Regions from separate parts of the Homo sapiens genome. Here regions 1, 2 and 4 are each linked to region 3. The links come from fine-mapping of genetic effects on gene expression. A gene starts in region 3. Each other region holds a variant in brackets. All regions are shown on one strand. Distances are from middle to middle. Region 1 overlaps C2orf76 (chromosome 2 open reading frame 76). Region 2 overlaps STEAP3 (STEAP3 metalloreductase). Region 3 holds the start of STEAP3 (STEAP3 metalloreductase). Region 4 overlaps C2orf76 (chromosome 2 open reading frame 76).

Region 1 (4,776 bases), 98 kb after region 3:
TCTGAGATATCTCAGGCTCTTGGTGGCAGAGAGAATCAGCCCTTTGCCAAAGGGTAGGGAGACAGTGACTGGCAAAACTGAAATCTGACTCCACACTCTTTCCACTCCCGAATACCTAACAAAGTGCCCTGTCCCGCAGACCGTGAGGTGGCAGTCCCGGATGACAATGACAGGTGAAAATAACACTGCAGCCTTTCTTGTTCAACAGAAAGCAGAAGATTGTTAAACAGCCAAGTTCAGACAAAGCCACTTGAAGTCTATCAAAACTCGAGTGGTTCTATAATTTCTTCACAAATAAATGTATTCATTTTTTCTGCCAATTCATCTGAATAGTATAGAAATACTAGGGCAGAAGGAAGTTAATAAGATAGAATAGTCTAAAAGGTACATTATCTACCACAATAATGCTTAGCAACTTGGATATTCTAACGCTTTCATTATCTAAAATTTCTTTCAAAAGAACTTACATGGAACACAGCTTTGCACATAGACATATAGATACACACATACACACACACCATGAAAAAAGGAAACCATATGTAACTATTCTAATTTAAAATGGCATCTGTAAGTTGATTCAAGTTTAAGGCTATATTTCAAGACATTATACTTTGAAAGCCTTGAAAGCCACAATTGAGAAGTTTCATATTTACCTTAATCATCCTTTTTATTCCTTTATCTTATTCAATATTGAGTATGTAAATTCTTTAAGCCCAATAAATCAAAGTACTTTCCACTCAGTGCCTTCAACTTCTGCTTCACTACCCCTTATAACCTCACAATTAGTTTCTGGATATTAAAATGCATACACACGGCGAAGATTGTGATTTCAAAGGATTTTAGGTCATAAGTTGTTCTATCAAATGAGAACAGAATGAAAAGCCACTCCAAAAAAAAATCTAAGGTAATAAAAAATTTATACTTTAAAATGTCTGCACCAATTAAGAGAAATATTTATTAGGTGCATCATACCTTTCAAATGAAGTCTCAAATTCAAAGTTTGGTGAGTGTCACTCTGCTGAAGGTTAATAACTGTGCCATCTTTATAACAAATAATGAATGACAACATCTAGCTTCTTACCTTATTACTCCATTTTTAAATCATCAATTGTAACACATAAAACTACTATATAACATGCTCAAATTATTGGCATTTAAAATGTTAAATCCCTTCTTTTAATTCTTAGTCTTCAATCATTTTTCCTTTTCTAATTACCTGGCAGAGAAACTCGTTTTAAACACAGTTTTGGCAAACATGCTACTCTTTGCAAATACGCCACTTCCTTACTATTACAATTCATTTCAGCAATATACTAGCATTCCTGTATTTCTAAATAAACTTCCAAATTGGTTTTTATTTACAGATAGTCATTTTTGAAAACAAAATTTAAGTTTGTAACAAACTAATGCAAAATTGTATTTATATATATTTTAAAAGAATAAAAAAATGGTTACCATATTTATAATTTCTGAATGGTGGTGGCAGGTTGGTCCTTAAAGGGATATCTACAAGAGAAAGATTATTTTTTTACACAATAAGCAAATAGACACTCATAGAATATGCACAGTCTTTTGGTTCTATTCTTTTCTATCTACAGACTAAGTTACCTTGAAAAACCTGACAGAACACAGAATAAATACATCACCGAAATCCAAGGGCCATCTATATTAGTCCATTCTCATACCACTATAAAGAAATACCCAAGACTAGGTAATCTATTAAAAAAAATGTTTAATGGACTGGGGAGGCCTCACAATCATGGCAGGTGAAAGAGGAGCAAAGGCACATCTAACATGGCGCCAGGCAAGAGGGTCTGTGCATGGGAACTGCCCTTTATAAAACCATCAGATCTCACGACACTTATTCACTACCGTAAGAACAGCATGGGAAAAACCCACCCCCATGATTCAATTCTCTCCCACCAGGTCCCTCCCCTGACAGGTGGGGATTATGGGAGCTACAATGCAAGATGAGATTTGGGTAGGGATACGGCCAAAGCATATCACCATCTAAAATATTAGAGCTATTGACAAGATGTTGAGTTGTTACTATCTGAACTAAGACTTCAGTAACACTATTAAAAGAATGTTTAATTTCATTAGACAACAGTATCTATGTATAGTTAAAATATATACTAATACACTTGTGTGAGA[C/CAT]ATATATATATATATATAGCTGATGTTTGTTTAGCATATGAATCTGAGAGCCCCTTATGGGTCTTTGGCCATTAGTGGAAACCAATGATCTAGAACAATCTTATTACTCCACCAAAATTCATATAACCAACAAAATAACTCCTCTAACTCCTCAAAGACAACAAAACACAGTAAATATTCTTTTAAAAACATATTCCAAATGCCAGTACTAATTTTAATTAATATCTGCTGGTACAACACCTAACAGAGAAATGTGTGTATATATGTGTATATATATATATATCTCAAAATTACATATGCACATACTCCTTGACCTAGCCATTCCACTTCAGAATCAATGAGTGAATGAACGAATTTATTGATTAACTGATTGACACAGGGTCTCATTTTGCTGCCCAGACTGGAGTGTAGTGGAACAAACATGGCTCACTGCAGCCTCGACCTCCCAGACTCAAGTGATCCCCCTGCATCAACCCCCCAAGTAGCTGGGATTACAGGTGCATGCCACCGCACCCAGCAATTTTTTGTATTTTTTTGTGGAGATGGGGTTTTGTCATGTTGCCCAGGCTGGTCTCAAACTCCTGAACTTAAGCAATCTGCCCACCTTGGCCTCCCAAAGTGCTGGGATTACAGGCATGAGCTACTATGCCCAGCCGGAAATTTATTATCATAGAACTATACTACACACGAGTGTGTGTAAAATGACATTCATAGAAGGGTATTAACTGCAGCATTGCTCACAGCAGCAAATGTTAGGAAAAGTCCAAATGTCCTTCAATTAGGTACTCGTTAAGTAAATCATAATATGCCCAAACAATGAAAAATACTTTTCAACTGTTAAAAGAAAAAGAAGGAAGCTCTCTACTAACATGATAAGATCTTCAAGTTACATCAAGGCTAAAGAGATATGAGAGAACATTATTTTTAGGAAGCTACCTTTTGAGTAAAAAGGGGGTAAAATGAGAATTTATGGTGGGATTTGCTTGTACTTGCTGAGTGGGGGGTGGGGAGGGCAGGGGGGTGCTGCACTGGTCAGACAGAGACCAGAAGGGTAAAGGAGACTTTTCACTATATTCCTTTCCACATTTTGATCTTAAAACCACATGAATGTGTTACCTACTAAAGAAAAGTAAAACAAACAAAAAATATCCACGTATCTAAATTAGGAAATGTGAAGGTTTTTGAGACAGGGTCTTGCTCTGTTGCCCAGGCTAGAGTGCAGGGATGTGATTATACTCACAGTAGCCTTGACCTCCTGGGCCCAAGCGATCCTCCCACCTCAGCCTCCCAAGTAGCTGGGACTACAGGCGCTCAGCACCATGCCCATAGTCCCGGCATTTTTTTTTTTTTTAATAGACAGGTTTCACTAGGTTGCCCAGGCTGATCTAAAATTCCTGGGCTCAAGCAATCCTCTCACCTCGCCCCGAAAGTGCTGGGATTACAGGCATGAGCCACTACACCTGGTCAGGAAATGTGGGTTTTTTTAAAATGCTTTTTCAAGATCAAATACGTATCAAATTAAAATATAATTGATTAATTTATGTTACAAGCATTTAAAGCACCTACTACCAGGTATTCCAGGAACAGAGTAAAAGAGGAGCTGCCCACTCATGACAGCGTGTGCTCCAGTGGTGAATGCTGTAACAAAAGTACGTTTCCAGCCAGTGCTATGGTCCTAGGAGTGTGGTCCTCACCCCGGCTGCACGTCAGGATCACCCAGCCTGGCACGAGTGGATCTGACTCACGGTAGGCTGGTCCCAGGCAGAGATATTTAAACACAAAACAAAACAAAACAAAACAAAAAAAACCCTGAGATGATTCGTACTCAAATTCACCCAGAGGCCAGACAGGTGACAACAGGTAAGTGAAGCAGGTCAAACAAGGAGGGGCAGTGAGATCTGAGAGCATGCGCCCATCAAAGGGGGCTCTGCCAGTCAGTGCTGACTGATCACAGTGCTGTAGGAACATGAGCCTGGAGTGGCCACACCTAAAGATTTAAATGGCAATGCTACAAGTCTAGGGTTTTAGGTGAAATTTCTTGACTTTTAAAACACTATAGGCCAAAAGAAACCTCTCTGGAGGCAGGATTTGCCTGCCAGATACCAATTTGAAACCTCTGGCTTAGGCTTACCAGAGCATATGTACTTCATTTTATTCTTCTTGTGTCTCCATTATTTGTGAATTATGGGCCAAAGCAGTATTCATTCAACATCAGAAAGGAGAATTAATTCCATTTAATGTATTGACATTTATATTTCCTGAATTAGACAATGAAACTCCCTGAAGAAAGCCGTGAGGTGAAGAACAGATGGCCCCATGAAGCTATTATCATTTAGAGATGTCTACGACTGAAGAAATCAAATCAGTCTTATGTTCAATCCAGACTTCTGAGAGAAGAGACAACGACCAGGACACAGCGAGCACCTATTCTCTTCCTGCCTTTACATCTTAACTGAAGTGCCATCTCCTCTGACAACCCTTCTAAAGCGGGGGTCTTCTCTGATATTGTTTCCTTCATAACAGGTTTTACAATTATAGTTTTGTCTTTTAACTTATTTTTGTCACTATTTCCTATGAATTTATAAATTCCTCGGGATGAAAACGTGGGCTGTCCTCTCAAAA
Region 2 (4,626 bases), 40 kb after region 3:
ACTCTTCGTGGTGAGCCAGAAGTTGTTAAAGACTGGGCCAAGAAGATTCCAAAAATGGACACAAAGCCAAGAAGAACCAGAGAGGGTGAGGAAGGATAGAGAAGGTTTTATTTGGTTATTTTACTTGGGCCCAAGAATGTTGAACGTGAGAACCTGTCTGTGAAATTGTAGTGTGCAGCCATTGGAAAATGTTTATTATTATCTTTAGCAAAAGCTTTACAAGCAATTCTCCCACACCATGTTCTTTCACTCACTGACGTTCACTGTCCTGGTGTCTGTCCTGGAGCAGGAAATGAAGGGACACACACACACACACACCAGGGAGGAGCAAGAACGGGGCCCAATGTGGAATCAGACCCACTTAGAAACACTTCTGAGGGGAGTGCAAATGAGAAGCGTCTGTCAGCCGAGGCTCTGGATTGATGCCAACAAGCTGGGCTAGAAGGGAATCCAGGAGGCTCAGTCCATGCAGACCACCCAGAGGTCTCAGTGTGCCGCCACACTTAAATTACACCCTCGCAATGTCTCCTTGGAGAAAATGCATATGTGTTCATTGCTTGATGGGTCATCGCTATTTCCATCCCTGTGTAATAGACGTGGGAGGTCTCTCCCAAAGCTCTCAGTGGCTCACCAGTGCTAGCAGAATTCAGTCAGAGCACCCCTGTGCCACGACTCCCTCGCTCTCGGTGCCCTCTGCTGTGTCACTTGCCTGCCCTGTCTAGGGGACTAGATGGAGGCTACTGCAACTACTCAGCGCTTCCCCCTCTGACTTTAGCTTTGGAAATTACTTATCTCCCACTGAAGTTGATTAAGTCGCCTGCCCAGGGTTCATATCAGTTGAACCAGCACCAACAGTAGAACCTGCATCTCTTCCTTCGTGGTCCACGAGAACTCGTACATGCCAAGAGGCTGGAGTCATAGAGCAGCACTTCCCAGCCATTTTCACATTGCATCTCTTACAGAAAGTCATGCTTTGGGTGGTGGATCAGCCACTCTCGGCTGGAAGTGACCCACAAAAGCCCACACATTGTTCAAGGGGTGTGAAGCTCCATTGTAAAATGGCCGGGACCATTTCCATTTAGAGTTGGGATGGTCTCTTCTCCCAACGGTCACTAATCTCCTCCAGATGGAAGAGTAGGCCCAGCGGGGTTTCCACCCGGGTTGTTTATAACCCAGTGTGGGGTGGGAGGTGAAGGTCTAGCATGCACAGAGGGCATCTGTGTGGTGTTCTGGGGCTTTCTATACGGTGCCAGGTCACCCAGACCACAGGCCCCGTGAGTCCCCTTCGCTACTGGTGCCAAATCCACGTGCCATCTGTAAATTATTTACTCTGCATTTATCTTCAAGCTAATTTAAAATCAATCCACTTTTTGTCTGATCTTAACTTAGGCCAAATGTTATCTGTGAAATTATGATTTTGGTATGCAAGCAGACACTTGTTACTCTAATATACATTAAAATACACACATAACTAGTAAAATTTATACACACACACACACACACACATATACATGTATATGTATATATATATTTAGAGACAGGGTCTTGCTCTGTTACCCAGGCTGGAGTGCAGTAGTGCAGTGGCACAATCTTGGCTCACTGCAACCTTGACCTCTTGGGCTCAAGTGATCCTCCCATCTCAGCCTCCCAAGTAGCTGGGACAACAAGCACATGCTGCCACAGCCTGGCTAATTTTTTTGTATTTTTTGTAGAAACAGGGTCTCACTATGTTGCCCAGGGTGGTCTTGAACCCCTGGGCTCAAGCAGTCCACCCACTTAGGCCTCCCAAAGTGTTGGGATTACAGGCGAGAGCCACCGCAGCAGGCCTTAAATGTTTTTTAAACTTCTTTGAACTTAATTCCATCTGAAATCATCCAGCAGCCTCCAGAGATAACAAATAACAAAGTTAAGGAAAAAGCATGGTCATATAGTTATTGTATGGAATCCGTGTGAATTGGTGGGTCCTTAGACACCTTCAGCATAGAAGCATTATTCCCATTTTCCTGTTGTGGAAGCTGAGGCACAGAGAGTTGAGAGTTATCATAAGATCACACTAAGAGAGTGACAGGACTGGGGTTCCAACCCATAGCGGTGAGTACTAAAGCCACCCTCCTTCCCCTCCGCCAGGCCAGCAGATGAGTCGTTGGCAGGATCACTGCATCTGTCATCCCCTCGCCCTCACTCCAGCCTTTTTTTCCCTCCACAGTCCTCACTGGGCTTTGTGGCCCTCGTGCTGAGCACACTGCACACGCTCACCTACGGCTGGACCCGCGCCTTCGAGGAGAGCCGCTACAAGTTCTACCTGCCTCCCACCTTCACGCTCACGCTGCTGGTGCCCTGCGTCGTCATCCTGGCCAAAGCCCTGTTTCTCCTGCCCTGCATCAGCCGCAGACTCGCCAGGATCCGGAGAGGCTGGGAGAGGGAGAGCACCATCAAGTTCACGCTGCCCACAGACCACGCCCTGGCCGAGAAGACGAGCCACGTATGAGGTGCCTGCCCTGGGCTCTGGACCCCGGGCACACGAGGGACGGTGCCCTGAGCCCGTTAGGTTTTCTTTTCTTGGTGGTGCAAAGTGGTATAACTGTGTGCAAATAGGAGGTTTGAGGTCCAAATTCCTGGGACTCAAATGTATGCAGTACTATTCAGAATGATATACACACATATGTGTATATGTATTTACATATATTCCACATATATAACAGGATTTGCAATTATACATAGCTAGCTAAAAAGTTGGGTCTCTGAGATTTCAACTTGTAGATTTAAAAACAAGTGCCGTACGTTAAGAGAAGAGCAGATCATGCTATTGTGACATTTGCAGAGATATACACACACTTTTTGTACAGAAGAGGCTTGTGCTGTGGTGGGTTCGATTTATCCCTGCCCACCCCA[C/T]CCCCACAACTTCCCTTTTGCTACTTCCCCAAGGCTCTTGCAGAGCTAGGGCTCTGAAGGGGAGGGAAGGCAACGGCTCTGCCCAGAGCCATCCCTGGAGCATGTGAGCAGCGGCTGGTCTCTTCCCTCCACCTGGGGCAGCAGCAGGAGGCCTGGGGAGGAGGAAAATCAGGCAGTCGGCCTGGAGTCTGTGCCTGGTCCTTTGCCCGGTGGTGGGAGGATGGAGGGATTGGGCTGAAGCTGCTCCACCTCATCCTTGCTGAGTGGGGGAGACATTTTCCCTGAAAGTCAGAAGTCACCATAGAGCCTGCAAATGGATCCTCCTGTGAGAGTGACGTCACCTCCTTTCCAGAGCCATTAGTGAGCCTGGCTTGGGAACAAGTGTAATTTCCTTCCCTCCTTTAACCTGGCGATGAGCGTCCTTTAAACCACTGTGCCTTCTCACCCTTTCCATCTTCAGTTTGAATGACTCCCAGGAAGGCCTAGAGCAGACCCTTTAGAAATCAGCCCAAGGGGGAGAGCAAGAGAAAACACTCTAGGGAGTAAAGCTCCCCGGGCGTCAGAGTTGAGCCCTGCCTGGGCTGAAGGACTGTCTTCACGAAGTCAGTCCTGAGGAAAAATATTGGGGACTCCAAATGTCCTCTGGCAGAGGACCCAGAAAACCACACTGGCTCCAACTTCCTCCTCATGGGGCATTACACTTCAAAACAGTGGGGAGCAACTTTTCCACCAAAGCTACAAACCTAAAATGCTGCTGCCCCAAAGCACAAGAGGGAAGAGCACCGCCGGGGCCACAGGACGTCTGTCCTCCAGTCACAGGCCATCCTTGCTGCTCCCTACTGACTCTAGCTTACTTCCCCTGTGAAGAAACAGGTGTTCTCGGCTGAGCCCCCAACCCTCTGCAGAACCAGGTTGATCTGCCACAGAAAAAGCATCTTTGAAGACAAAGAGGGTGAGGTCTTCATGAGTCTCCTGGGCCCAAAGCCATCTTCTGATGGAAGGAAGAGAGTAGGGCCAGTGAAGGCTGCCCAGAGAGAATGTCACAGATGAGGCTGCCCCTGCCCCCCCCCCGCCAGGGAGGTTTCATGAGCTCATGTCTATGCAGCACATAAGGGTTCTTCAGTGAAAAGCAGGAGAAGAGCCCACTGCAAGGATAGCTCATTAGGCACATGACCGATGCAGGGAAGGCCATGCCGGGGAAGCTCTTCCTGCAGGTATTTTCCATCTGCTGTGCCAAGGCTGAGCGGCAGAAACTTGTCTCATAAATTGGCACTGATGGAGCATCAGCTGTGGCCCACAGAGAGCCTTGCTGAGAAGGGGGCAGGTAAAGCAGAGATTTTAGCATTGCCTTGGCATAACAAGGGCCCATCGATTCCCTACTAATGAGAGGCAGGGAGAGCATGGGCAATGGAGACCCACCAATGATCCCCAACCCCGGTGGGTACTGGCTGCCTGCCCTGGGCCAGGGAATGGCTCCTTATACCAAAGATGCTGGCACATAGCAGAACCCAGTGCACGTCCTCCCCTTCCCACCCACCTCTGGCTGAAGGTGCTCAAGAGGGAAGCAATTATAAGGTGGGTGGCAGGAGGGAACAGGTGCCACCTGCTGGACAATCACACGAAAGGCAGGCGGGCTGTGTACTGGGCCCTGACTGTGCGTCCACTGCTGTCTTCCCTACCTCACCAGGCTACTGGCAGCAGCATCCCGAGAGCACATCATCTCCACAGCCTGGT
Region 3 (4,776 bases):
AACAGTCCAAAAAACTCTATTTTATAGTGTGTTCAGAGGTAATACAGGCTATGGGGAAAAAAAGAAAGCAAGCAGGTACATGGATGAGGAATGGGGGCGATCAGCGTGGGCCTCACAGAAATGATGACCTTTCAGCCAAGACTTGGAGGAGGTAGGGAGGGTACCTGGGGATGCCTAGGGTCCAGGCAAGGGGAACGGCAGGGGTCAGGATCCTGTCAGATTCATCTGAGGTGGGACTGAATGTGAGCAGAGAGAGGGAGACAGAGGATGAGGGCAGAGAGAAGGCCAATCACACTGGGCCACGGCTATTGCAAGGACTTTACTTTTGCTGGGGGAGGGGGTAGAGTTTTGAGCAGAGGAGAAATGCGATCTGGCAAACATCTTGCAAGGATGGCTCTGACTGTTCTATCCTTGGCAGAGGACACCAGAGTCTGGCCCATAGAAGGTGCTCAACAAAGCTCAGCACATTGCACTCCTCCCTGGAGTAGGAAAGGGCTCGTCTGCTTTGGGAAATTTGGCTCTCAAGCTTCTGGAAACACCTGACCCCATGCCAGGTGAGACAAGCTCACACTCAAGGCCCCCTTAGTCCAACGGTCAGTGGACAGAACAAGCACCAAAGGTCAACGGCGTGGGCGGTGGCCTCTCTGCCAAAGTGTGTGGGCCCAAGTAGGGTATTCACCTCCCTCCCTGTCTGTGAGAAATTTCAGACCCCTCTACTTTTTCCAGCAGGAGTTCATGTTCCTTTTAAGATAATCCTCTATAGACCTCTGGCAGCCCAGCCTTCAAAATGTCTCCCCCTGTCTCTCTTACTCATGGAGAGCCCCGCTTCCCCGCCTCAAAAAAAAGTCTTCCTCTCTCTTACTCATGCATGGAGAGCCCCACAAAAAGACACTGGTTCCCAGGGATTCTTCCAAAGATGCTGGAAGACCTCTCAGTGTTTGCATTTCCCAAGCTCGGTTTCCTTGTGCTGTCCTTGGGCATTAAAGGAAGGCTATTCAGCCATCCCCATCAGCAGGAGCAGGCATCAAAAGAACAGCTACTGCAGGGGGAGCATATTAGGGGCACCAGAGGGGGCTAGGAACTGGGTCTTGTCTTCTCAAAGTTTACAACCCACTGCAGGGGCCACTCACCAGCCCTGGCACCCTAAGGGCAGGAACCTCCATTGGGCACGTGTGTCTCCAGCACTGGGAGCACTGTCTGGCACCTGGGGCACTGTGAGTGTTGAATGGATAAAGGACCTGTAAGAATTGCCATAAGAGGTGTTGCCCTGGGGCAAGGTGGGACAGGAAAGTTCTTGCAAGAGAAGAGAGGCTCTGGCCTTGGGCCCTGGCTGAGCAGAGAGCTGGGAGGTGGGTATTCGGGTAGGAGGAAAGCTGTGGAGGGGGAAAGCAAACTGCCTGCGGGGGTGGGGGGGTTCTCGGCGGGAGTTGGGGGTGGAGGGAAAGGCGCTTTACAGCAGCACTCCCTCCACAGGGAGACCAGAGCTCTGCCTCTTCCTCCCCACCGTGCCCTTTGGGGTCCAGTTGTGGGGCCTTCCTTGAGGCCCAGCTCCTGCCTCTGGCCTCCGGAGGCTTATCTCCCCAACAGAGGCTGGCTCCCCAGAAAACAGGATTCTTAGACTTCCTAAAAATAACCTGAAGCTCCTTATCAGAGGCTAATAGTGTATGTCTCCCAGGAATACTCTAGAAAGAGTACCAGGGGTCAGGAACCCCCACTCAGCCTCCACGAATCTGAGCGGAAAAGCCCGGGTCTCCTCACCTGTAAAGAAAATAACTGCAGCCGGCAAATGTGACCACAGGTGAGAAGGGGCTTCGGACCAGGGCGCACACCTCTAGAGAGGTGCCCACAGACAGCCTCCCCTTACTTACGCCCTGCTTCGCTGCAGTGCTGTGAAGCCATCGGCATTGGAAGTGCGGAGGGCAGCGGGCAGTGCCCCAGGGGGAAGGGGGGACGGGTAGGGTTTCAGAGCCCAGAAGGCCTAGACAGGGAGGCAGCTCCGGGAGAAAGGTACCCGCCATCCCACCGGTCTTGGAACCTGAGGACTGCTGGGAAGGGTCAAAAGTCTGCCCTAAGGGTGGACAAGGGACAGAGATTGGGGGGGGACCACAAAGGCCTGGGCGCAACCTTGTTGAGAGGGAAGGGATCCGGACCCAATCTGGAGCCCTGGTCTCTTCCCACCTGCAACCGTGGCTGCCACTTGGCCTCGGTTATAAAATGGACAAGGATTCGAGGTGCTCCTCAGGTTAAGAGAGGGGGGCCTAGAGGTCACCCTGGCCTCGGTGCCCTCCGTGGCCGGGTTAAGAGGAGGTCCCGGAGTTCTGCTCACTTCAGCCGTGTGCCGGGCACTGCAAATCAGGAAGTGTTGGCGCCGGCTGGCGACCTCCCGCCTGGGGCCAGGGGAGGAGGGTGGTTGGACGCTGCCACCGCTGCCGGGGCTGTGCAGGGCTGGGCGGGGAGCGAGGACCCGGCGGCTCCTGATTGCGGCCCCGGGGGAGGTGGCCGAGCCGGATAAGCTGCGGCGGGCTGGAGGGCGGCCACCTCCCCTGCAGGTCCGGCCCTCCCGGGCGGGTGGGGCGCGGGGGAGGAGGAGCCTCGGGCCGAGCCACCGCCTTCGCCGCGGACCTTCAGCTGCCGCGGTCGCTCCGAGCGGCGGGCCGCAGAGGTGAGTGTACCCTCCCCCGGTCTCCGCGGGGCTGCGTGCTGCGCCCGGTCCCCGAGACGCCCGCCCGGTTGCACCCTGCGCCGTCGCTGCGCGGACCTCGGGTGCCGCCACACGTCTGGAGGCGACTTCTGTCCCCTGGGACCGAGCCACGTGCGCCCGGCGGCAGAGAAACCGGGTTCCGGGGCCCCCACCCCGTGTGCCTTCCTTCCCTAGGCGTGGAAGCCGCTTGCGCCGCGCAGGTTAGGCAGGGCCGGCGGCGACAGTGGCGGGGAGCAGGCTCCGGAGCCCCGGGTGCAGATGTGGGCGCCCCTCCGGATGACCCCGGCTGAGTCCACAGGTCCCGTGTGCCCCACGGCTGGGGCTCTGGCCAGCGGTCCCAAAGGAGGGCTGGTAGCTGTGGGCGGGGATCTTCCAGGCTCTTCCTCGCCAGACCTCCCAGTCCCTTCGCAGCCGAACAGGGCAGGGACAGGGGCAGGTGCAGGGGCTGGGCAGGGGCGCCCGACCTTGGTCCCCAGGAGGAGGCTGGCCTCACCAGTGCCCGCCTCTGCCCGCGGAGCCCTTGCCTGGCAAAGTTCCCCCTCCTGCCCGGCAAAGCTCCCCCTCCTGCCCACTTCCCCGAAATTTGGGGACAGGCTGCCCGGAGAGGTGTGGTTGGAACTTTGGTCACTCTGGGTAAATGAAGGGGAGGGTGTGCCCAGATAATATGCGGTTTGGGGACCAGAAAGCCGGATCCGTGGGGAGAAGCAGGAAGGTCCCGCTGGAGCCCTGGCAGAGGGCACAGAGAGGCCTCCCAAATATCCAGGGCCACCTCAGAGATGGGCTCCAGAAGTGGGGATTCTGGAAATGCCCCCAGGGAGGTATTTCTGTCCATCAGAGTGCAGCCATAATATAATTAACAGCAGATATTCCCATTTATGTGTGCCAGGCATCTTGCTAAGGGCTTTGAGCACAATATCCCAGTTAATCCTCACAACAGGAAGGCACCATTATCTCTTGTTAAAAATGGGGAAACAGCCTCAGAGAGTCCACGTATTTTGCAAGGATACACAGCTAGGAAGTTGCAGAAGTAGAATTTGAACCCAGAGTTATCTGACTTGGAGCCCAGAGGAACCTACCACTGGGGCGAAACAGGCTGTGTCCTCACGGGGATTCTGGCAGCCCCAAGAATACAGTGCTGAGAGCCAGAAGGTCCACAAAACCAAAGGGTCTCACCTGGGTGTGTCCTCTCAGTCACCTGCAAGGCTTGTTAAAAATATAGATCCCCAAGTCCCATCCGAAGCTGACTGAATCAGCTAGGGGCACCTGGAGGACCCAGACTATGTCTTACTCATCTCTGTCCCTGGTGGCCTGCAGAGGGGCTGGCAAGGAGCAGGTGCTTAGTGAATGTCTAATGGGTAAGTGGGCGGGGTGGGGTAGATGGTGTCACTAGTGTCCTGAAGGGGGCTTAAATGGAGCAGGTGGCCTCAGCCAGGCAATCCGGCAGCAGGTATGGAAGTGACACAGTCTAATGCTGGCCTCAGAGCCAGCAGGGAGCTCAGGCTGGGCCACTTGTCCACCTGGGGGTTGAACAGCCTGCCCCAGGTTTGCTGAGGTCCCCAGGACCAGGCCAGGTCAAGCTGGGATCACACATGTTCCCTCTCCAGCCTAGAGATGTCAAACAGGTAGATTCCTCTCCCATTCATATCTCCTATCCTTGGCCCACAGCCCTTCCCTTCTTGGACTTATCAGAGACCAAGGTGCTGGGCAGGGCTTCAGGTGGTTAAAAAGTGAAAGTTCTTGAGTGAAGTCCAAAGGCGCACACCTGAGAGCTGAGTGGGCAAAAGGTCGCTGGCTGAGTGCTGGGGATAGTCTGGCTTTGGAGTCAGATGGACGAGTCCAAATCTCAGCTCCTTACCCCGTAACATGAAGCCCTCAGCTCTCTGAACCTCTGTTTATTTGCAAAACCTTGCCAAGGGCTTCAAACAGGATATCCTCATAAAACAAGTATGCCTATTTGGGGGACTAAGTGTGTGAAGTGCTGAGTTTTAGGAGTGCAGTAAATATCGGATCCCTCCTTCTTCACCTCAGGTTTGCGAGTTAACCAGTGAGGGGCCTTCCAGGCCTAGTGCTCTTGT
Region 4 (4,776 bases), 77 kb after region 3:
TCCATGTAAATTTTATTAGTTTCCATATTCTATTCCATTGATCATTTTATCTAGTTCTGTATCATTACCAACTTGTTTTGATCACTGAATCTATTTTGACATCTAGTAGGCAACCACCCTTTCTTCTAGCCTACGTTTTGTTTTTCCAAATTGATCTTGGCTATTCTTGCATATTCTTCTTCCAAATGAATTTAAAAATCAATTTGTCAAGTTCCATGATAAATCCTTTGGGATTTTGATTGAGACTGCATTTATTTATGGATTAGGTAGGTATCTTCCATCTATAAACATGTAATCTATCTCTATTCAGGTCTTTTATACTCATCTAATAACACTATTTTATAGCTTTTGTGAACAATACATTTTAGGTTCAGCACTCAAGTCTCTTAGTTCAAAAAAAACTTAATCTTCTTGCAATCATATTGTCTACAAATGAATGTTTTGCCTACTCCTTTCCAATATCTGAGAATCTTACTATTTTTCCTACTGGCTACAATAAGACTTGCAGAAACATACTGAATAGTACTGGCAATAGTGTTCATTCTTGTCTAATTCATATTTTTTGTGCTGGAGTGCAGTGGTGCAATCACAGCTCACTGCAGCCTTGACCTCCTGGACCCAAGGGATCCTCCCACCTCCGCCTCCCAAGTAACTGGAACTACAGGGGCAAATTACCACACCCAGCTAATTTTTTTTTTTTTCTTGTAGAGACGGGGTTTCATCCTGTTGCCCAGGCTGGTCTCGAACTCCTGAGCTCAAGCAATCTTCCCGCCTCAGCCTCCCAAAGGGCTGAGATTACAGGCCTAAGCCAATGCACCCAGCCGCAGCCTCTTATTCATATCTAATAGATTTGCTGAAACACTTCTCCATTAAGTAGGTTTTCTATGAGCAAACTTCATCAAGTTAAGGGTATTTCTTTCCCTTGCTAATTTTTATATATGCATGAGCAAGAATATCATCAAATGCCTTTTGGCATCTATTGAGATAAACATAATATTTTTTCTCCTATATAGATTTTGAAAAGTATATTGAGAGATTTTCTAATTTTGAATCAATCTTCCATTCCTGGTAAAAGTCCTTTTTAGTCACAATACATTTTTATTTATTGTAAACACAACAGAAATGTCTTTTCTCATAGCTGTGGAGGCTACAAGTCTGAAATCCAGGTGTCAGCAGGGCTCTGCTCCCTCTGCAGGCTCTAGGGAACAATCCTTCTTTGCCTCTTCTAGTTTCTGGTGGTTGCTGTTGATACATTTATTTTTGATTTTTTTTCTGTATTTATAAGTGAAAATACTCTATATGTACCTTTTATAAGAAAAATACATACCAAAAAAGGTACTATACATACATATTTTTGCATTATCTACTTAAAAATGCACAGGTAAAGATATGCTTAATTTTATATTTTAAAAAAGCCTGGTATGCAAATTGAATGCGTGCAAAGCAAACAAATGGAATATGTTTTAACCTCTACTTATTGAGTTCCCTATTTGGATTACTGCTGCCATCATTAATCCAGCCACTCAACTCCAGCAAGAATCACTGAAGTCTCCATTCCTTCCTCCCCACACTATCCCCGTCCAGGCATTCACCAGGTCCCAAACATTCTAAGGTCATTCTACCTCAGGTCTCCACTGGGAGGCTGCAGGATGGAATGGGGGAAGTCAGGATTTTAAGACAGATTTGGTTCCAATCCCATTGCACATGACTGCATTCTCTTGAGCAAATAACTTTACCTCTCTGGGCCCCAATTTCTTCATCTATAAATATACATGCTACCATTGAAGAACTGTGGTAAAAGTCAAATGAGATAACATATGTAAATTAACTACCACACCATATTTGCCACGGAACGCACGATCACATGGTAACACCAAGAACCTCCCCAATCCTCCTCTTCCCCTCGGCCCCTGCCCTAGGCCAGGCCTTCCAAACTTCACCTGCTCAATGATGTCTTCTAGTCTTTCTGCCACCTGGACATTGCTGACAAAGCTCACTTTCTAAAATATAAATGGAATCAAATACCT[G/C]TTTAAATCATGCTACTGGCTCCCATCTACCTACTAGATACCGTTCTAACTCCTTAGCATGACTTGTAAGGCCTACCTCAACCTACCTTTCTGGCCTTATCTTCCTCTACTCTGTTCCATGTACTTTACACTCCTGTATAGATGCTCCTCAACTTACAATGGGGTTAGTCCCAATAAACTCATTGTTGGTTGAAAATATTATCTAAGTGAAAAATGCATTTAATACACCTAACCTATCAAACATTGCATTAGCTTAATCTACCTTACATATGCTCAGAACATTTACATTAGCCTAGAGTTGGGCAAAATCATCTACCACAAAGCTGATTTTATTGTAAAGTATTAAATATTTCATGTAATTTATTGAATACTGCACTGAAAGTGGAAAACATAATGGCTGTATGGGTACTCAGTGTTTCTACTGAATGCCTACTGCTTTCATACCACTATAAGGTCGAAACATCATTAAGTTGCACCATCTATAAAAGTCAGGGACACTAAAATTTGCGCTTTCTCCTGAAACCTCAAGCTCTTTCACAGTCCTTTGCCTTTGTGTATGCTATTCCCTCTTCCAGAAAGCCTTTCCCTTCTTTTCTTCTAAGCAAAAATTCCCATTCAATCTTCTAAGACACAGCTCAACTGGTACTTCTTAAAAACACACACACACACACACACACACACACAACTAATTTCTGTCAACAATGCTCTGATGGCAGCTTTTTCTGCTATTCTTAAAATCATTTGCTTGTACTATGTCTTTCTCCATTCACTGAGGCAAAAACTGGGTCTTATTTTCCTCTTTATTAACTCCCCCAAAACTACATCATCTGTGTATTCAACACTTTGCTCCTGAATGAAACAATGAATAAAATAAGTAGAATTTATCTTAAAGAAGACCCTATTAACTTTTTCAACAAAGCAAGGCATCTTCTAATCATGTTAATCAGAGTTTCAAAGTTGATTTGTTAAGAAATCATAGGTTTTCTTAAGTTAGACGTGACCATAATGAAACCAATTTGCCCTCCTGGCAACTCTGAGGACTCAAGGAGCAATGGCAGAGCCGGCTAAGCCCTCCGGCACTCAGGGAGCAATGGCAGAGCTGGCTAAGCTCTCCGGCACTCAGGGAGCAATGGCAGAGCTGGCTAAGCTCTCCAGGACTCAGGGAGCAATGGCAGAGCTAGCTAAGCTCTCCAGGAGTTCTGATTAAATGCAGCCTGACTGAAAGGCCTCTGAAATAAGGACTCCACAGGTGCTGGCGGTCAGCCATAATCAGGAACCACAAGTATTATATTATTTAGAAGGAATGTATCTTCCAGGACATAGACTTGTTCTCAATGAACAATTTTCTTCCAGAAGTGCAAGCATCCTGCCGCTTCCTCTCTCCAAATAAATGAGTTTGATTCTATGATAGTTTCTTCCTGAAGATGGAAAACACAGCTCAAGAAAGAAAAGAAAAAAAAAAATCAGCAACATTATTTGTATAGGCTGCAATACTTTAAAAAAAAAAAAAAAGTAACCTTCCTACATCATAAAACCTCCCTAAAATATACACAATTCAATTGCACATATGGTGGTATGTATCACACACCCTGAACTAAAAGGTAGCCATGAAGGTCAAGAAACTCAGAATTTCTGGTAGCCACAGACAGAAACAGTTGCTCTAATTAGAAACTACAGAAAAAATATACAATAAACAGTATGATCTTAGTCTTAGAATCTTTTTAAGGAGCTCTACATGCAAGTCACAAAAATAATTCCTAATTTTAGAAAACAAATTATAATTTAAGAATCAATATTCCACAATAATTTTTAATAACAATTTATTTCCCTTTAAAAAGATCAAATGTTTTTCTCATAATATATTATTTTACAACAACAAAGAAAAAGAAAGAGAGAAGGAAAGACCTGAAGAGAAAGAAATAACCAGATTTTAGCTCAAAGAGTATAGCCTGGGATTAATTTTTTAAGATTTGTTTGTCAATTTCAAAAATTCAGCAGTGGAATAAAGAGCTTAATACAGGTATGCAAAAAGGAAGCCCTCGAGATGTTTTCACCAGGATGAAATGGGATTAGCTTTGTAGTTCTTATAATCTTCTTCACAGAAGAATGCAATTTCAGTTTCACTGGCTGAAAAAAAACAGAAAATGGAAAAAAAGATTTTAATGTAAATCTAAATTTTAAACAAGTATGGAAATCCATATGACTTTGATTCGGTATTTCAGAATAGCTTCAGATGCCCAAAGTGAAAAAGATGAGTTATTTGTTGGGTCGCACAATGCATTTTACCAAATCAACAAGAAGTTTCAGGTGAAGTTTTAAGAATCAAAACCTCAAATGATTTAAAAGTAAAAAAGAACAAAAAATAAAAAACCAAAAATTAAAATCAAGAGTTAATACAAGAATCTGGTTTTCAGGAAATCATAAAATTGCTCATTTACAGTCTTTTTTACAGTGCTAGGAAATAAAAAACCTTGATTTTTTTCTCAAATATGCTACTCAGGTACTGAAGGAAGGGGAGGGAAAACTCTTTTCCCCCCCTGAAATTAGCCTGTAGGTATAATAATTTAATACTTAGAGGATCAGTAGAATATTTTACAGATCACTTTACATTCTCCCTCATGACCCATCAAAATATGTGTCTGAAGAAGTTAATTTTTTGCCCTGCTTATGATTAATTCATGCGGCTTCAACAATATGCAAAGTGAAAGACACAAATTGGCTTCTACCTCAATACCTTCAAATACCTCTA

The links.
Region 1: its variant is fine-mapped to the expression of STEAP3 in whole blood (INTERVAL, PIP above 0.99).
Region 2: its variant is fine-mapped to the expression of STEAP3 in whole blood (TOPMed, PIP above 0.99). The same link has a PIP of 0.9 or more in blood mononuclear cells.
Region 4: its variant is fine-mapped to the expression of STEAP3 in whole blood (TOPMed, PIP above 0.99).

Annotation. Positions count from the first base shown.
Region 1 is chr2:119,319,699-119,324,474 of GRCh38, forward strand. C2orf76 (chromosome 2 open reading frame 76) reads right to left here. Exons shown (of 6, transcript NM_001322331.2): 3 at 1,456-1,506. Among named protein-coding and RNA genes, the nearest start is that of C2orf76, 45 kb to the right of the region's middle. The variant C/CAT (reference allele first, on the strand shown) is at 2,155.
Region 2 is chr2:119,260,851-119,265,476 of GRCh38, forward strand. STEAP3 (STEAP3 metalloreductase) reads left to right here. Exons shown (of 6, transcript NM_182915.3): 6 at 2,207-4,626. The coding sequence ends at 2,488. Among named protein-coding and RNA genes, the nearest start is that of STEAP3-AS1, 14 kb to the left of the region's middle. RefSeq lists a silencer at 4,474-4,573. The variant C/T (reference allele first, on the strand shown) is at 2,893.
Region 3 is chr2:119,221,227-119,226,002 of GRCh38, forward strand. STEAP3 (STEAP3 metalloreductase) reads left to right here and starts at 2,608. Exons shown (of 6, transcript NM_182915.3): 1 at 2,608-2,662. RefSeq lists silencers at 2,351-3,130, 3,191-3,260.
Region 4 is chr2:119,298,395-119,303,170 of GRCh38, forward strand. It overlaps C2orf76 (chromosome 2 open reading frame 76), which reads right to left. Exons shown (of 6, transcript NM_001322331.2): 6 at 3,831-4,154. The coding sequence ends at 4,078. Among named protein-coding and RNA genes, the nearest start is that of STEAP3-AS1, 52 kb to the left of the region's middle. The variant G/C (reference allele first, on the strand shown) is at 2,028.